4 linked regions of the Homo sapiens genome follow. The protein of the gene in region 1 purifies or fractionates together with the protein of each later gene. This does not show direct contact. Each region holds a gene or a part of one and is shown in the gene's direction. Other genes may lie near its edges.

Region 1 (4,087 bases):
GTGGTGGCGGGCGCCTGTAATTTCAGCTACTTGGGAAGCCGAGGCAGGAGAATTGCTGGAACCCGGGAGGCACGGTTGCAGTGAGCCAAGGTCTTGCCACTGCACTCCAGCCTGGGCTGACAACAGCAAGACTCTGTCAAAAAAAAAAAAAAGGGGGAGAACTGAGGAGGATACTACTCATGATTCCTGCAGCACAATTCCTTTTATGTCAAAACACACACACACACACACACACACACACACACACATACACACACTAGTCCATCATGGCGTATATGTCTTAGTTTGAGTTTCTCCAGAAGCAGACCCTAGGCAAGGTTTCAAATGCAAATAGTTTGAGAGCTGATTCCAGAGACCCTCCTAGGGGAGTAAGGAAGTGAGGCAGGGAACAGGAGGTAGTCATTAAAGGTGTCTTCTAAGCCCAGTTACCACTGCGGGCACCTGGAGCTCAATCCCACTGAGGAGCTCTGGGAGCCAGGGTAGAACAGGCTTGAGAGGTGAGGGAACCGGGGTATTTGTCCACCCTGTTCTCGCTCCTGTCTTTTGTTGAAAACTACTCCTGGGGATGTGATAATTCTCTAGCACTTTCGGCTTGCCAAGCCCATGGGCAGAGCAGGCACCAATAGCCACAGAGAAATCTCTCAGACAAAGAGATGAAGGTGCCGGCAGCTGGAAGTCCAGCCAGAATGTGCAGAAATGGTAAAGGGCAGAGTGATAGAGGCAGGGCACTGACAGCCTCTGCTTCAACATACATGTGTGTAAATGCAGAGGCAGAGGCTGAGGCCAAATGCTGGCAGAGGATATCTGGGTGGGGAAAGAGGTGGCCATGGAGGGCTTATAGAATGAGTAATCCAAGAGTGTCTTAAATGTATCTGTAATGTTTTAATCTTCCTTCCTTCCTTCCCTCCCTCCCTCCTTTCTTTTCTTTTCTTTCTTCTTTCCCTTCTTTCCTTCCCCCCTTCTCCTCCTCCTCTTCCTCCTCCTCCACTTTCTTCTTCTCTTCCTTCCTTTCTTCTTTCTCTCTCTCTCTTTCTTTCTTTTTTCTTTCTTTCTTTCTTTCTTCTTTCCCTTCCTCCTCCTCCTCCTTCTTCTTCTTTCTTGCTTCTCTCTCTCTCTCTCTTTTTTTTTTCTTTTTCTTTTTGAGACAGGGTCTCGCTCTGTCTCCCAGGCTGGAGTGCAGTGATGCTATCATGGCTCATGCAGCCCCAACCTCCTGCGCTCAAGCGATCCTCCCACCTCAGCCTCCTGAGTAGCTGGGATCACAGGCACATGCCACCACACCCAGCTAATAAAAAAAAATTCTGGTAGAAATGGGGTCTTGCCATGTTGCCCAGGCTGGTCTTAAATTCCTCGGCTCAAACGATCCTCCTGTCTTGACCTCTCAAAGTGCTGGTATTACAGATGTGAGCCACCATACCTGGCCTCTAATGGTTTAATTTTTAACAAGAAGGATGCACTAATGTTTTACTAGGTGGTAAAAGGTCATTTTAAAAATAAAATACATACCCTTCAAAAAATAAAAGAAACTGAGACCTGGAGCTTTGTCAATTATAAAAAAAATGTAAAAGGATCAGCGCCTGTGTTACTGAGGCTTTGAGGATTCCATTTGTGGAGGACAGGTTTGGGGGCAGCTGATCTCTCAGTACCACGGCAGGTTAAAGTGAAAAGTGGCCCTGGTGGTGAACTGGCCACCATGTCCTGTCTGGAGGGGGAAACTTCCACTCAGCGGCAGCCAAGGAAAGACTGCTCCTCTCCCAGCAGAAGCGAGCAAATGTGCATCACCCTTCTCAGTTTAAACATATATTTATAGCTATTGGTTTTCTTTTTGTTTGTTTGTTTTTGTTTTGAGACAGGATCTCACTCTGTTGCCCAGGCTGGAGTGCAGTGGGGCAATCTTGGCTCACTGCAACCTCTGCCTCTTGAGTTCAAGCAATTCTCCTGCCTTAGCCTCCCAAGTAGCTGGGATTACAGGCACCCACTACCACGCCCAGCTAATTTTTGTATTTTTGGTTGAGACAGGGTTTCACCATGTTGGCCAGGCTTGTCTCAAACTCCTGACATCAGGTGATCCGCCTGCTGACCTCAGGTGATCCGCCTGCCTCAGCTTCCCAAAGTGCTGGGATTGCAGGCATGAGCCATTGCACCTGGCCTATTTATAGCTATTGTTTAGACGGGAAATCTGGGGGCATCCAGCAGACTAAATGGGGACCTTACTGTCATATCTCATATCCTATTGGTCAGATGGATAATAAACAAATCAACAGGTAATACATTAGGTGCATTAGTCCAGGTCCTTTTTTATTTTTTCTTTTCTTTTTCATACTTAACTTCAGCATACCCTGAGATAGTTCAAGTCCTTTGAGAAGCAGACTCCCATAGCATTAAATGTGCAAGAAATTTATTGGAGGAAATGGCTATGAGAGAAAATGGGAAGAAACCAGGAGAGGACAGGAGAGCCATCAGATAGTGGGGTACCTCTGTCCACTAATGAAAAAGAAAAGGAAGGAAGAAAGGAAGGAAGAAGAAAGGAATAAAAGGAGGACGTGTCTTGGACTGCCATGCCGTATTTTTTTTTTGTAGTTGTTGTTCTGTTTTATTTTGTTTTTTTTGAGACAGAGTCTTGCTCTGTTGCCCAGGCTGGAGTGCAGTGGCGCAGTCTTGGCTCACTGCAACCTCCGCCTCCCGGGTTCAAGCAATTCTCCTTCCTCAGCCTCCTGAGTAGCTAGGATTACAAGCATGCGCCACCACGCCCAGCTAATTTTTGTATTTTTAGTAGAGACGGGGTTTCACCATGTTGGCCAGGCTGGTCTTGAACTCCTGACCTTGTGATTCGCCCGCCTTGGCCTCCCAAAGTGCTGGGATTACAGGCGTGAGCCACTGCGCCCAGCTGCCGTGCCATTCTAAGGAAAGTTTGTCAAGGCTGTTAAGGAGCCCTTGGCCAAAGTCTCTTGACAGAGGTCCCCCAGACATGGGTGGGCTTCGGTCTCCCTGCCACACTCAGTCATTGGCTGGGAGCAGCCCATGAGAGCAGTGATGGACTTCAGAGCACAGCAGCTGAGCCGCTGATCAATTTCTCCAGTCGTACTCCTGCAGTTGGAGATCTGAGAGGTGCATCCTCATGGCCACCACGTTTAAGAGGTGGTTAGGGGCATGAAGACTAGCTGGGAACAGGCTAGACAGTGATGGGAGTTGGGGGGCAGAGGATCCTGTCTTTGCCAGGGTGATGAGGGAAGGTTGCTCTGAGAAGGTACAATCATTAGAGAGACTGAAGGAAGTGATGGAGCCTTTCTGGGTGAAGAATATTCCAGAAACAGAACATGCAATGCCCCAGAGGTATAAGCACAGTTGGTGAGTTGAAGAAGAGCAAGGAGGGCTCCAGTGGAATGATCAAGGGAGAGTTAGAAGGAGACAGATCTGAGAGGCTGAGGAGGGGATCAGATTGTGGAGGTCTTACCCACCTTGGAGAGGACTTGGGCTTTTACTCCAAGTGAGACGGAAACCCTGGGTGGGGGTTGAGCAGAGAAGGAATGCGATCTGACTTACCTTTTTTTTTTTTTTTTTTTTTGAGACGGACTCTCACTCTGTTGCCCAGGCTGGACTGCAGTGGTGCGACCTCGGCTCCCTGCAACCTCTGACTCTGGGGTTCAAGCGATTCTCCTGCCTCAGCCTCCTAAGTAGCTGGGATTACAGGCATGCGCCACCATGCCCGCCTAATTTTTGTATTTTTAGTAGAGATGGGGTTTCACCATGTTGGTCAGGCTGGTCTCCAACTCCTGACCTCAGGTGATCTGCCCGCTTCAGCCTCCCAAAGTGCTGGGATTACAGGTGTGAGCCACCATGCCCAGGATGACTTACATTTTTAAAGGCTCACTTATTTGTAAGAGGCAGAATGCAGATTCAAACCCAGCTCTATCTGACTTCAAATCTCATGCTCTATTTTCAAACTGCCCTGCCTCCTGCCTGCCTTAGAGATAAAATCATTCCAAGAAGGTTCACAGTTGCTCTGGAATTCTGAAATTGACCAAGTGTCCCAAGAGTAACATTGAACATGCTATGAGTTTTATATGTGGTTGAATAAGTGTTTGGA
Region 2 (3,500 bases), on another chromosome or scaffold:
GTTTTCCTCAGCACCATACCCAGCACCTAGCACAGTGCCTGGCACAAAACAGGCTTAGGCAGCACTGGCGGAAGGGGCTGGATGGATGATGCTGGAGCCCAGCACTCGGCATTGCGCCCTGACCCATGCCCCCAGTCGGCCCTGGGACCCACAGGACCTGCCACGGCCCCCAACGACCCAAGTGTCAGTCACAGTTGGATCTTGGTGACCAACTTCTGCCTAGGGGGTGCTAGGTGCTTAGAAGGAGCAGAGAAGAGAAGAGGCACAGACTGTAACCAGACAGCTTCCTCTCCCCCTGGAAAAACATGATTGGAGCAAGAGGAAATTGCCTGGGCTCAAGGAATGTTAAGCAAATAGAGGACACCTGTGGGTCCAGCCAGGCCCCGGAGTACTGAGGACACCAGAATAGGGAATAATTGTGCCAGAGCCAAGTTCATCCCGCGGAGGCTTCCTGGATGAAGCAGGCCTGGAGCTGTTTCTCATCCCTTTGGGGAGCAGCCTGCCCCTGTCCTTCCTCCGGGGAACCTGAGCTGAGAGCAGCAGGCTTGGCCCCCAGCTGGGTGCTGGAGCTGGCTGAGCCTCACTGTTGTGTTTCAGGGCCCATCCTCCCACCAGGACATCCTTCATCTGCAGCCAGCGCCCCCGTCTCATGTAGTGGGCCTCCACCGCCCCCCCCACCCCCAGTCCCACCTCCACCCACTGGGGCTACCCCACCTCCCCCACCCCCACTGCCAGCCGGAGGAGCCCAGGGGTCCAGCCACGACGAGAGCTCCATGTCAGGACTGGCCGCTGCCATAGCTGGGGCCAAGCTGAGAAGAGTCCAACGGGTAAGAGCTCCTGTGTGCGGGGTGGGAATGGGACCGAGGGGACCCTTGTGCCATCTGCAGAGCGCTTGTGTTCCTTCCCGCATCTGCGAGACACAGCAAACTGCTTCCCTGCCCAAAGCTAGCTGGCCCTTGGCCACTTGTTCTCAAACGAGAAATCACATGGGACAGCACTTTGAAATTATGAAGTTAGCCTTTGAGCCTCACGTTGACCTTCACACGTGGGGCAAGAACTATGTCCCCCTTTAGAGATGAGGAAATTGAAGCACAAAGAGCACGAGTAATTTGCTCAAGTCACACCGTTTACAAATTGCAGATTTTGGACTCAAGCCTGGGTCTCCTGAATCTATGTCCATTGCCCTTTCCACTGTAGGAAGCTGTATGCTGGCAACTAGGTCCACCCGGCTGTTTCTTCCCTAACCCTTGCTCATATGTTCTAGAACTGTGCTTGTAAGAATAGCTCTAATACAGACCTTTGGCTTACATTGTGTTTCCTTCCCACAGGATAGTCTCTTCTCCCCTCCCTCCCTCCCTCCATGTGTCATGGCTGGTCTTGGCAAAGACACTAACCATGAGTCTGCAGGCCTGGGGAGTGTCTGCGACTTGTGTGACCTGGGCTGGTCCTTGTCCCTCTCTCGATTCTGGTTTTCTCCCCTGTGGGGTTGGAGAATAATGGACCAGATGGCCCCTGAGGCCCCTTGCAGTGCTGCTGCCATAGGATTCACACGCACACAGTCCCCTGCATCCCCTCACATCGTTGCTGCTCCTGTTCTGCCATCAGCAGCAGAATCTAAAACGCGGCCTCCTTTTTCCTCAGCCAGAAGACGCATCTGGAGGCTCCAGTCCCAGTGGGACCTCAAAGTCCGATGCCAACCGGGCAAGCAGCGGGGGTGGCGGAGGAGGCCTCATGGAGGAAATGAACAAACTGCTGGCCAAGAGGTGGGTCTCTACACCTCCCGAGACTTGGTGTGCCTAGCAGGAAGCTCCTGCCCCCGCCCCCAGCGCTGCACAGAGAATCCTCTCTTGACCCCAGAATCTTTGTTCCCTGGGTTTAGCCAAGCAGGGGAAACTGTTACTTAAGTTTTCCCTTCCCAAGGGGTTAGTCTGAAGCGCAAGCCCACAGGAGTCCTCTAAACTCCAGATCCTTCATTTTAGCTCAGCAAATATTTCCTGAAGCATCTACCATGTACCAGCCCTGTCCTGAGCAGAGATAAATGTGGAGACAATTTCAGAGATAAATGCGGGAAAAAGAACAGTCCTTGCTCTTAAGATCCTAACAGAAATAAGATGTGGCCGCAGTGGTCGAGTTTGCAGAGGACACTCTGGTGAATGTGTGGTGAAGGCACCCCATTCTCCAGGGTTCTTTATGGAGGACTCAGGAGAAGGAGTTATGAAGGGTAGGAGCCCAGAGGGCATTGCCCTGAGCGACGGAGAGAGAGTAGTTCCATCTACATCCCGGCCGGGCTCTTGGGCCTGAGACCTGGCCATGTGTGTCTGCTCGCTGCAGCGGGTGTGGCTGCAGCCTGCCATTGTGGCTCTCCGCTGTTCCCCAAATGAAACCCGAGCAGATGGGGAGATCGTCCAGGTCTTTCTCAAAAGGGATGCAAAGCTTGGATTTTATTTTTAAATATGACTTGGCATCAGGAATGTGCTCACCTTGGACTACCAATATCGTGGCTCACTTAGGCACCAGAGGGCACGGGAGTAGGCCTCACCTGCCAGAACAGAGGAAGCTGCAGCGGGGGCCCTGCTCCCTTGGTAACCCCACCTCCACCCCCTGCCACTTTGTCGCCTTCTCCTGGCCCTCCCAGCTGCCTTCCAATTGGCTGACCCAAGTGAGAACTCTGTGTGCCCAGGGTCTTCACACTGCAGTCCTAGTTCCTCTCATTACCTTCCCGTGGCTCCATGAGGATGATGCGAGATGACAGAGGCCCACAGCTGCAGGCAGCTGGTGTGGCGCTTCATGGCAGGGCCACAGCCTGGGTTTCCTGCCAAGGGGCTCTTTGCTTGCATCACAGATGGCAGGGAGGGGAGGCTCCCCGTGTGTCAGGGAGCAGCAAGGTGGATCCGCAGCACGGGCGTCTCCGGAGCCTCTACTGGGCCTGGGCGTTTGTACATCGCCAAGACAGGAGGCAGGCTTCTGAGCAGTTTCCTGTGAGAGTAAGTCCAGGTGTGTGGGGCTTACAGTGGCCACACAAAGGCGAATGGCTCCGTGGGTGAGAGAGCCGGGAGGGCTCGCAGAACGATGAGGACGTCCCGTGCTGTAAGAGGGACAGTGGGCAGAGTTAAGGTAAGGCTGGGAAGGCTGACGCCCCCTGTGCCTGGAGAGCTAGGTGTGGAGGAAATGGACCAAAAGTCAGGCTGGAAGAGGGAGCCTCCTGGTGCAGGGCATCGGGTTCCACCTCAGAGCACTCAGAGGCGAGGATGGGCCACAGAGAAATAGAAATAGTTTTGGAAAAGAAAATATGAATGCTTTCCCTAAGTCCTAGACCAAGCTGAGGGGAAGCACCTTTCTGTCTGAGAACAGGAAAAGGCCAGTATTGCCAGGAGCCAGTGAGATGCCAGATGCCGGTGGGAGAGTCAAGGCCCTCCCAAGAACAAACATGCTTTGCATAGCTCAGCAGGGATCAATCAGGTGCTCTCTGAAATCCACCTCAGTGATGGCTACTGGGTGGA
Region 3 (3,500 bases), on another chromosome or scaffold:
TTTTAATTTCTCTGGGATAATTGCACTTACAAATGCAGTTGTTGGTTTGCATGGTAGTTGCAGATATACTCTTATAAGAGACTGTCAAACTGTTTTCCAAAGTGGCTGTACCATTTTACTAGTAGGACTTTTAAAGTAGCGTGTGTGTGTGTGTATGTATTTTTTTTGAGGTATGGTCTGGGTCTGCTGCCCAGGTTGGAGTGCAGTGGCTTGATCACAGATCACTGCAACTTCTACCTCCTGGCTAAAGCAATCCTCCTGCCTCAGCCTCCCAAGTAGCTAGGACTACAGGTGCGTACCTCCATGCATGGCTAATTTTTGCTTTTCTGTTTTTGTAGAGACTGGGTTTCGTCATGTTGCTCAGGCTGGTCTTGAACCCCTGAGCTCAAGCAATCCTCCCACCTCAGCCTCCCAAAGTGCTGGGACTACAGGCATGAGCCACCACGCCTGGCCTTTATATGTATATTTTTGATCATAGTAACATCAGTATGCAATTAAAGAGTAATAATATGTATGTAAAATAAAGACACGAATATTTATTCAACTCTAGACAACGTTTGATGCCATAATGGGTTTAAAATAACTCTGGGAGCCTGGGAATCTAGTCTCTAGATTGGAAACCACTGAACTGGGTATTTTATTATTAAAAACAATAATCATTATTATTTTTTCCATTGTAATAACATGTAAAAAAACATATTTCCCATATGCTCAGTGGAGAAAATTTGGAAATAAGGAAAGTAGCAAGAAGAAGTGGGGGGAAAGAGGCACCCATAATTCTATTACCCAGAGTCAAAAACATCTTTTAACACTTTTTCTGTGCATTAAAAACAAAAAAAGAAAATTATACCTCCATCATTTCTGGTGTGACCTGCATTGTGACAGCACAATGTTGGCCAGTTATGGTGCAGAAAACAGTGCTACCCCTGGGAGCCTGGAGTGTGGTGGGAGATAGCTCCAATAGTGGCAGGTGCTGTGCAGGAAGAGGCTCGTGTGAAAGTACTGGAGGGCTGCCATGGGGCACGGTGATGGGGACATGGGGCCATGCCGTCTGCACAAGGCCAAGTGGAAGAGCAGATTTTTCACGGTAAATGTAGGCAGACCCTTTTTTTTTCCTGGTTGTCTAACCTATTATTGTAGAAGTGCTCATATACATTCTTTTCCATCTGTGCTTTGGCAGGATGACATCATTGATGATGTTGACAGCTTTCTTGCTGCAGCAGAGACCCTGAAGGAAAGAGGTGCATATAAGATCTTTGTGATGGCAACTCATGGCTTGTTGTCTTCTGACGCCCCCCGGCGGATTGAAGAGTCTGCCATTGATGAGGTAACAGGGTCTGGGTGTGTGTGGGTACAGCTGCCTGGGCTTTTGGCACATCTTGATCTTTAGTTACAGAGAGTCAGGACAAGACTGAGATCTTTTGTGGCTGAGAAACGATTCAAGGGCTGGGTGCAGTGGTTCACGCCTGTAATCCCAGCACTTTGGGAGGCCGAGGCAGGTGGATTACCTGAGGTCAGGAGTTGGAGACCAGCCTGGCCAACAGGGTGAAACCCCGTCTCTACTAAAAATACAAAAATTAGCCGGGCGTGGTGGCACACACCTGTAATCCCAGCTACTTGGGAGGCTGAGGCAAGAGAATCACTGGAACCCAGAGGGCAGTGGCTGCAGTGAGCCGAGATTGTGCCACTGCATTCCAGCCTGGGTGACAGAATGAGACTCTTGTCTCAAATAATAATAATAATAATAATAATAATAATAATGTGTACAACTCATTGGTTTTTAGAATGTTCAGAGTTGTGCAGTCATTACCATAGTTGGTTTTAGAACATTTTCTTCTTCCTAGAAAGGAACCCCATACCCATTAGCTGTCACTTCACATTTTCTCTCACTGCCATTAGTCCCTGGGAACCACTAATCTGCTTTCTGTCTCTCTAGATTTGCCTGTTCTGGACATTTCATATAAATGAGATTATACAATGTGTGGTCTTTTGTGTCTGGCTGTCTTCACTCAACATAATATTTTCAAGGTTCATCCATGTTGGAGCATGAATCAATACTTCATTTTATGATCAAATAATGCTGTGTTACATGGATAGTCCACATTTTGTCTCTCTCTTCGTATTTCATGTTGATAGAAAAAATTTTTTTTCTACTTTTTAACTTATGAATGGTGCTGCAGTAAACATTTGTGTACAAGTTTTTGTGTGGACATGTGTTTTCTCTTCTCTTGGATACGTACCTAGGTTTAGAACTGCCAGGTCATACAGTAACTTCATGTTTAAACTTTCAAGGAGCTGCCAGACTGTTTTTCAAAGCAGCTGCGCCATTTTACATTCCCACAGCCGTGAGTTGGGGGGGGGCTCCAGTTTCTCTGCATCCCTCCAGTACTTGTTATTATCTTTTTTGCCATACCTATCCTAGTGGGTGTGAGGTTATCAAATCTTAACCTAAGAAACACAGGCTGGGCGCGGTGGCTCACGCCTGTAATCCCAGCACTTTGGGAGGCCGAGGCCGGTGGATCATGAGGTCAGGAGGTCGAGACCATCCTGGCTAACGCGGTGAAACCCCGTCTCTACTAAAAATACAAAAAAATTACTTGAGCGTGGTGGCGGGCGCCTGTCGTCCCAGCTTACTTGGGAGGCTGAAGCAGGAGAATGGCATGAACCCAGGAGGCAGAGCTTGCAGTGAGCTGAGATGGCATCACTGCACTCCAGGCTGAGCGACAGAGCAAGACTCCGTCTAAAAATAAATAAATAAATAAATAATTGAAACATTGACTTGAGACATAGATCCACTGTGTTTTCCTGTCGTGGCAAGCCTCAGATTTGAGAAGCTGTCACATTTCCAGATCAAACCATGAAGCTACTTGGCTTTCTGATGCTGTGGTTTTTTTTCTTTTGCTTCACAGGTGGTGGTCACCAATACAATTCCACATGAAGTCCAGAAGCTCCAGTGCCCCAAGATTAAAACTGTGGATATCAGCATGATCCTTTCAGAGGCGATCCGTCGGATCCACAATGGGGAGTCCATGTCCTACCTTTTCAGAAACATAGGCTTAGATGACTGAGTTTTCCTTTAGGAAAACTCCCGAGGGCCAAACTGGAAACATAAGAGTGACTGCTCGGTGGGATGGATTTCACAGGAACCGTCATGCTTGTTCCTCCCTCTCCCCTGTAACCTCACTTCTTATTGATTCCTAAGAAGATAGACCAACTTTTTATGTCGGTTTGGGTGTTTGTGAGTTTGGGGAGCAATTTTTATAAAAGAAAAACTTTATTCTCCTCTTTTGAAAAGGTAAGACCTCGTTTTAGTTGTAACTGTTTAAAAAATAACACTTGGAATAAGATTTGTAAGCTCACAAAGCCTTCTTCCAAAGTTGCTTGAGCCAAGTGCTTAAAAAGTTAATAAAATAAAATGATCTGTATGATACCTGCAATTGAAAAGCCGAAAAGATTATACTGTCAAGTCCAGTAAATGACATTTTTAGAGATGCTTTTGT
Region 4 (2,178 bases), on another chromosome or scaffold:
GAGCCCCTATACAAAGATTTTCCAGTTTTAACAAATTTAAGACCCTCTCAAACTAACAGGCTTAGTGATGTAATTATGGTTAGTAGAGGTACACTTGTGAATAAAGAGGGTGGGTGGGTATAGATGTTGCTAACAGCAACACAAAGCTTTTGCATATTGCATACTATTAAACATGCTGTACATACTTTTTGGGTTTATTTGGAAAGGAATGCAAAGATGAAGGTCTGTTTTGTGTACTTTTAAGACTTTGGTTATTTTACTTTTTGGAAAAGAATAAACCAAGAATTGATTGGGCACATCATTTCAAGAAGTCCCCTCTCCTCCACATTTGTTTTGCCAATTTGCACATTAAATGACTCTTCCCTCAAATGTGTACTATGGGGTAAAAGGGGTAGGGTTTAAAGATGTAGACAGTTGGGTTTTTTAAGGGCCCTTTTTCAATAACTGGAACACTCTATAACAAAGGATACTTATTTAAATAGATGACATTGACTATTTTTGTTTTTATTAAAAGGAAGCTTACATGCCTACCAATATTTAATCTTTTATGATTGCCTTTTTATAACTTTTTATATTCTCAGCAGAGTGCTTTACCAATTGAAGTAAAATGTGGCAGGCTGGAGTTATTGAAGCAGAGTGGCAGTCTTCAGTTTGCAGAGTAGGGGTCTGTCTTTTAAACTCTGAGTGCAAACTTCAGAGTTCTTGCCTTGGCTGCAGTTTTTTTCCTTCAAGAATGCAGTACTAACATTTATTTGAGTGGAGTTACTGAACAGTAACATAGCTGTGATTTTTGGTATTTGAAACACTGGTTTTAAATATTTTGACTTGTTGAGGGTATGTTTTATATAGCAAGACATTATATAGCAGTAAAAAATGGTGTTTTATCTTCTATATAATTCCTGTTTTTATTATTAACAAAACAGTCCTAAATAGCAGCCCTCAATTGTGAAAAAATTTACTTTAAACTACATTAGGTTGTGAATGCAGGTTTTATCAGAACTATGTTTTTGTTCAGTTTATCTGTTCATATGGATAAATATTGGTTGGGATGACTTGGTGTCTAATGTGTAGTGCTACACACCTAACTTATGGGGCCAAAATAGCATGTCCTAATGCTTGCTGCTGATTTAAACACATTAAAGGTACTTTGCAGGAAATCCTTGCACCATGGGATTAATATCCAATTGCTGCTTGTACACTCATTCATTACTAAAAGTTTTGAGAAATTTTTTTTTCCAGTAATGAGCTTAAGAAATTTGTGGAAAATAACTCACCTGGCATCTTACATCTGAAATAAGGAATGATATAAGGTTTTTTTTTCTCACAGAAGATGAAGCACACAGGAACCTAATGGGCCAACTGGGATGAGGTGACTATTCTGAGATGACTATTCAGTGGCTAACTTGGGTTAGGAAGAAAATAATTAGGTATTTTCTCCAAATGTTCACTGGTACTCTGCCACTTTATTTCTCTCATCTGTTACACAAAGAACCACCAGGAAAGCAAATCAGTTTGGTTGGTAACTCTGTAATTCCTAACTATCACTGGTTTGGTTCTGGACTAAAACTACATTGACAGATTGAATTTGCCTAATATGATGACTGTTTTTAATATGGATCTGTATGTGTTCTATTCAGCACAAGGAAATAAAATTTTAGTTGAGGATTCAGCACTAAAATCCTTGAGATCACTTCTCATTTCATAAGTGACATGCTTAATGCAAATAATATATGGGAATACTTTGGGTCAAAGTTTTCCTGCATTACCTTGGATGCCAAAGAGGTAGTTTGGTGGCCAAAAAGTATCTTTTTTTAAGAAGCTGTTGTAGCTAGTCTGCATGAACATGAGAAGTTTCCATAAAGGAAAAAAAGCAGTGCTCAGTGGCCATTTGTTACTGTTAATCTGTATCTAAAAGGTACATACTTTCTTCAGAGAGGGAGAAAATGGCATAGCCTCAGCACAATTTAAAAAAAAAAAAAAGCTTTTTAACCAGTAGGAATTTTTGAATAGTTTCAAAATAATATTGATAATACCACACTTCTGGTCAACTTAATAAAACACTCTAAATTTCCTAAAAAGGTAGAAAAGCTATAAAATATCTAAACCAAATATTATTGGTTATACTCGGGTGGATCTTTTATTATGAACTTTAAATGTAGGGTTCTGATTTTTGGCTTC

The links. Proteins that work in one complex are often made in the same cells at the same time.
Region 2: the proteins of HCK (region 1) and EVL purify together in Homo sapiens (pull-down; one study listed by IntAct). This does not show direct contact.
Region 3: the proteins of HCK (region 1) and PRPSAP2 purify together in Homo sapiens (affinity purification with mass spectrometry; one large-scale study listed by BioGRID and IntAct). This does not show direct contact.
Region 4: the proteins of HCK (region 1) and IVNS1ABP purify together in Homo sapiens (affinity purification with mass spectrometry; one large-scale study listed by BioGRID and IntAct). This does not show direct contact.

What each region holds. Positions count from the first base shown.
Region 1 is NC_000020.11:32,058,393-32,062,479, forward strand, and holds part of HCK (tyrosine-protein kinase HCK), read left to right. Parts: intron 1-4,087. UniProt on the Homo sapiens protein: Non-receptor tyrosine-protein kinase found in hematopoietic cells that transmits signals from cell surface receptors and plays an important role in the regulation of innate immune responses, including neutrophil, monocyte, macrophage and mast cell functions, phagocytosis, cell survival and proliferation, cell adhesion and migration.
Region 2 is NC_000014.9:100,127,922-100,131,421, forward strand, and holds part of EVL (ena/VASP-like protein), read left to right. Parts: intron 1-597; coding exon 598-827; intron 828-1,641; coding exon 1,642-1,763; intron 1,764-2,410; exon of another isoform or gene 2,411-2,539; intron 2,540-2,715; exon of another isoform or gene 2,716-3,500. UniProt on the Homo sapiens protein: Ena/VASP proteins are actin-associated proteins involved in a range of processes dependent on cytoskeleton remodeling and cell polarity such as axon guidance and lamellipodial and filopodial dynamics in migrating cells.
Region 3 is NC_000017.11:18,927,631-18,931,130, forward strand, and holds part of PRPSAP2 (phosphoribosyl pyrophosphate synthase-associated protein 2), read left to right. Parts: intron 1-1,180; coding exon 1,181-1,327; intron 1,328-2,909; coding exon 2,910-3,068; 3' UTR 3,069-3,500. UniProt on the Homo sapiens protein: Seems to play a negative regulatory role in 5-phosphoribose 1-diphosphate synthesis.
Region 4 is NC_000001.11:185,295,888-185,298,065, reverse strand, and holds the end of IVNS1ABP (influenza virus NS1A-binding protein), read left to right. Parts: coding exon 1-31; 3' UTR 32-1,678; downstream 1,679-2,178. UniProt on the Homo sapiens protein: Involved in many cell functions, including pre-mRNA splicing, the aryl hydrocarbon receptor (AHR) pathway, F-actin organization and protein ubiquitination.